Regions from separate parts of the Homo sapiens genome. Here region 1 is linked to region 2. The links come from fine-mapping of genetic effects on gene expression. Tissue or cell type: whole blood. Region 2 holds a variant in brackets; the other region holds the start of a gene. All regions are shown on one strand. Distances are from middle to middle.

Evidence for each region. PIP is the estimated chance that this variant, and not a neighbour inherited with it, causes the effect.
Region 1: it holds the start of HIF1AN, and the variant in region 2 is fine-mapped to the expression of HIF1AN in whole blood (TOPMed, PIP 0.95).

What each region holds. Positions count from the first base shown.
Region 1 is chr10:100,534,555-100,537,161 of GRCh38, forward strand. HIF1AN (hypoxia inducible factor 1 subunit alpha inhibitor) reads left to right here and starts at 1,389. Exons shown (of 8, transcript NM_017902.3): 1 at 1,389-1,581; 2 at 1,857-2,107. The coding sequence starts at 1,405. RefSeq lists enhancers at 1,149-1,238, 1,309-1,368.
Region 2 is chr10:100,590,142-100,592,905 of GRCh38, forward strand. No RefSeq gene overlaps it. Among named protein-coding and RNA genes, the nearest start is that of HIF1AN, 56 kb to the left of the region's middle. The variant C/T (reference allele first, on the strand shown) is at 1,454.

The DNA of each region.
Region 1 (2,607 bases), 56 kb before region 2:
GAGGTAGCCCTATTATCGGTTTGGTGTAGCATGGTTACTATGTAGCATAATTACATAGTTAAGCCAGTGCATTCATTTCTATTACTGCATAACAAATTACTGTAAATTTAGCAGCCCAAAACACCAATTTATTTTCTCACATATTCCATGAGTCCAGGTACTGGTTGGCTGAGTCCTCAGCTCAGGGTCTTATCAGGCTGAAATCAAGGTGTTGGCTGGGTTAGCGATCTCATCTGAGGCTCCGTGTGTGTCCTTTCCCAAGTTCAGTGGTTGTTGCCAGAATTCAGTTACTTGCATTTGTAGGATTAAGGTGCCCACTTTCTTGTTGGCTGTCACCCAGGAGCCTTTCTCAGCTCCTAGAGTCCACCTGCCATTTCCTGCCATATGGCAGTTTGCTCCTTCAAGGTGAACAGGACAGCTGTGCTGTGGCTTCAAATCTCTTAGATTCTGTCTCTGACCTCTAGCCCTGATTTAAAGGGCTAGAGTGATAAGATGAAGCCCACCAGGATAAATCACCTCTTTTTGACTGCCTTAAAGTTAATTGATTAGGGACTTTAATTACATCCTTGTCATATAAGCTAACCTAATTACAGGAGTGATGCTCTATCATATTCACAGTCGTGTTTTCTTTTAAGGGGAGAAATGTATACAGGATGTGTACACCGTAGGGTACAAATCTTGGGATACATCTTAGAATTGGGCCTCTCACAGCCAGCCATAAGAACTGTCCAAGTAAGCAATAGAGGTATTAATATGGCCTTTTATAATCAGTATAGATTGTTTGAAAATGTGAGATGTCCATGGTTGGCCTCTAATAACATTCGATTCACGGCAAACATATATTCAAGTAGGAGACATGGTGATATAGGCAGAAAAATCAAATGATGCTAAACAAAAGAAAACTGTCTTTGATTTTGAAAGAATTCAACTTGCTGTATATCTTTTGCCTAAGCCTTCAGTCAGCCTTTGCTCTACATCTACCAATGTGATCACTGCTTTTCCTTCTGACTTCTTTAGGTGGGTCAAGAGTTTGCTTTTCTCCCCATTCATGAGTGTAAAGTTTAATGCCTAACTGAACTTGCTTCCTTCTTTGACTCTTGTGTAGACTCGGGCACATGGGGCAACTTTTTTTGTGTTTTGCTCTACCAGGTCGTCCCTATTCCGTGGGACTAGTGTCTAGCCCCATTTCTTCAGCAGTGGAGCCTAGGATGTAGAGCTGCATACTACCATTAGGAGGCGCACCCTCAGGCCTCGGCTCCGCGTTCTTTATGTCTCTGGACCGCTCTCTCTCGCAGCTCATCTCTATGGTTTCCGTTGGGTGTGTGGTTTTTTTGTTTTTTTTTTTTTGGGGTCCGGAATAGGCGGAGCTTCCGGTTCCGGTGGGGGCCGTCCCTGGCGGCGGAGATGGCGGCGACAGCGGCGGAGGCTGTGGCCTCTGGCTCTGGAGAGCCCCGGGAGGAGGCTGGAGCCCTCGGCCCCGCCTGGGATGAATCCCAGTTGCGCAGTTATAGCTTCCCGACTAGGCCCATTCCGCGTCTGAGTCAGAGCGACCCCCGGGCAGAGGAGCTTATTGAGAATGAGGTGGGGGGCGGGGCCGCGTCTAAAGGGAGAGGAGGAAGGTACCCGGTTGAGAGGTCAGAGGTGAATGGTGAAAGAGATGGGAGACTGGCAGGGCTCTAGACTAGGGCCTATGGGAAGATGGAGAGAAAGGCGAGGAGATACGGAACTTAGGGGTTCGTGCTGATTAACAGGAGAAATTATTCTGAAGTTGAGAAGTAGTTGGGATCATGGAGGCCAACCCACCGGCTCCTTGGCATTACTTCATTTGGTGTTTTTCACCTGTTGTTTTCATTTAGGAGCCTGTGGTGCTGACCGACACAAATCTTGTGTATCCTGCCCTGAAATGGGACCTTGAATACCTGCAAGAGAATATTGGCAATGGAGACTTCTCTGTGTACAGTGCCAGCACCCACAAGTTCTTGTACTATGATGAGAAGAAGATGGCCAATTTCCAGAACTTTAAGCCGAGGTCCAACAGGGAAGAAATGAAATTTCATGAGTTCGTTGAGAAACTGCAGGATATACAGCAGCGAGGAGGGGAAGAGAGGTAAATTCCGAAAGCTTAATTTTCTGTTGGATTTAGGACACTCATTTTTCTTTCCTATACTTGTTTGAAGGTGTGGCAGAATTGGGTCAATTAGAGATTGGCCTCTCCCATCTCTGGATTCCAGTTGAAGGAGTAGTCTGGTCTTCCAGCCTTTAAGGGGTTTGAGTTCTTAGTGGTTCTTGGTGCTACAGCCAGCTAGTTCTGTAGCTTGAGGGATGAGGGAATGATTAAACTTGAGCTATGAATCTCTGGGTTCCCATCTTCTTCCTCATAAAGAGTTAGTTGCCTAGAAGGGTCAGGCAGGTGAATGGAAGGAGTAATATCGTCTGTGTGAAATCAGTGATGAGGCTGAAGGCATAAGCCTTGTTCAAAGTGAGAAGCCAAGGCCGGCGGGGGTGGCTCATGCCTGTAATCCCAGCACTTTGGGAGGCCGAGGTGGGAGGATTGCTTGAGTCCAGGAGTTCAAGACCAGCCTGGGAAACGTGGTGAGAGCTAGTCTC
Region 2 (2,764 bases):
AGTGCCCATAGGACATATGCCAAGATAGAGCATATGCTGAGCCATTAAACAAACTCAGCAAATTTAAAAGAATTGAAATCATATAGAGTGTGTTCTTTGACCACAAATGGAATTTTTAAAAAATTGAATTGATAATAGAAAGATTGCAAGAAAATCTTCAAACACTTGGAAACAAAACAACACACTTGTAAATAATCCATGGGTCAAAGAGGTAGTCACAAAGATACACCAAACTGAACAAAAATGATAATACAACATCTTAAAATTTGTGAGTCATAGCTAAAGCAGTGGTGACAGGAAAATTTATAGCACCAAATTTATGCATTAGAAAAGAAGAAAATTTCAAATCAACCATCTAAGCTTCTACTTCATGAATCTAGAAAAAGAAGAGCAAAGGAAATCCAAAGCAAGTGGAGGAAGGAAACAATAAAGAAAAGAGCAAAAGCCAACAAAACTAGAAATGTGAAAATGATAGAGAAAATCAGTGAAACAAAGAGCTAGTTCTTTGGAAGATCAATAAAACTAATAATCCTCTAGCAAGACTGACAAAAAATAAAGAATGAAGACACAAATTACCCATATCGAGAATAAAACAAGAGATATCACTACAGACCCTGCAGACATCAAATGGATAATGGAATACTATGAAAAACTACACATATAAATATTGACAATTTAGATGAACTGGACAAATTTCTTTAAAAATACAAACTACCCCAACTCCCCCAACAGGAAATAGATAATTTGAATAGCCCTCTATTAAGGAAATTGAATTCATAATTTAAAAACTCCCCAAAAAGGAAATCTTCAGGCCTATATGGTTTTACTGGAGAGTTCTAACAAATGTTTAAAGAAGAAGGAACAACATTATGTAATCTCTTCCAGAAAATAGAAGAAGAGGGAACACTTTCCAATTAATTTTATGAAACTAATATTACCCATCATCAAAGATGGTATGAAAAAAAGAAAAAAAAGAAAATTACAGACCAATATTCTTCATGAAAATAAATGTAGAAACACTCAAGAAAATACTAGCAAATAGAACCCAGCAATATATAATAAAAATTAGATACCATGAGTAGTTGGAGTTTATTCCAAGGATGAAAGGCTGATCCAATATTCAAAAATCAACTAATGTACTTTACCCTATTAACAGACTAAAGAAGAAGAATCACATAATCATATCAGTTGATGCAGAAAAAGCATTTGACAAAATCAAATTGGAATATCTAAACCGGTGCCATAATACAAGAAAAGGAAATAAAAAGCATACAGATCAGGCCAGGCACAGTGGCTCACACCTGTAATTTCAGTACTTGGGGAGGCCGAGGCGAGTAGATTACTTGAGGCCAGGAATTCAAGACCAACCTGGCCAACATGGCAAAACACTGTCTCTACCAAAAATACAAAAATTAGCCAGGCGTGATGGCAAATGTCTCTAGTCCTAGCTACT[C/T]GGGAGACAGGCACGAGAATCGCTTGAACTTGGGAGGTGGATGTTGCAGTGGGCTGAGAACATGTCACTGGACTCCAGCCTGGCAAGATTCTGTTAAAAAAAAAAAAGCATACAGATCAGAAAAGAAGACATTCTTTTCTGCTGAGAAAATCCAAAGGAATCTACAAAAAAAGTTCTAGAACTAAAAAGTGAGTTCAGCAAGGTTGAAGAATACAAGATAAATATGCAAAAACATCGATTGTATTTCTACATACTAGCAATGAACAGATGGACACTGAAATTAAAAATGAAACACTATTTACAGTCACTCAAAAGTAAAATAAAATACTCAGATGTAAATACAACAAAACATGCAGAACTTGTGTACTGAAAACTGCAAAATGCTGATGAAATAAATAAAAGAAGATCCAATAAATAAATGAAGAGACATACCATATTTACAGATTGGAGGACTTAGCCAAGTGTGGTGGCTCACCCCTGTAATCTCAGCACTTTGGGAATCTGAGGCAGGCAGATCGCTTTAGTCCTGGAGTTGGAGACCAGCTTGGGCAACATGGCGAAACTCCATCTCTACAAAAAATACAAAAAAATTAGTCAGGCATGGTGATGCACACCTGCAGTCATAGCTACTCAGGAGGCTGAAGTGGAAAGATCATCTCTCCACAGCCCAAGAGTTCCAGGCTGCAGTGAGCCATGATCATGCCACTGCACTCCAGCCTGGGTGACAGAGTGAGACGCTGTCTCAAAAAAAAAAAAAAAAAAAAAAAAAAAATTGGAAGACTCAATACAATAAAGATGTTGATTCTTCCCAAGTTGATATACAGGTCTAACAAAATTCCTGTGAAAATCACAGCAAGATGTTTTGCAAATATAGATAAGATTATCCTAAAATTTATCTGTTAAAGGCAAAGGAGCTAAAATAGCTAAAAACAATTTTGAAAAAGAAGGATAAAGCTATAGTAACCAAGAGATTGGTAGAGGTATATACACATAGATTAATGAAACAGAATAGAGAATCCAGAAATACAGCCACACAAATATGCCCAGCTGATTTTTGGCAAAAGTACAAAAATAACTCAATGGAAGAAAGATGGTCTTTTCAACAAATGGCTCTGGAGCAAGTGGATATCTGTAGCTACCCCCTGCCCCCACCCCCACCAAAAAAAGGAAAAAAACCTCAACCTAAGGTCTCACACCTTATTCACAGTTTAACTTGAAATGAATCACAGGCTGGACATGGTGGCTCACGCCTGTAATCCCGACACTGTGTGAGGGCAAGGTGGGCAGATCATGAGGTCAGGAGATCAAGAC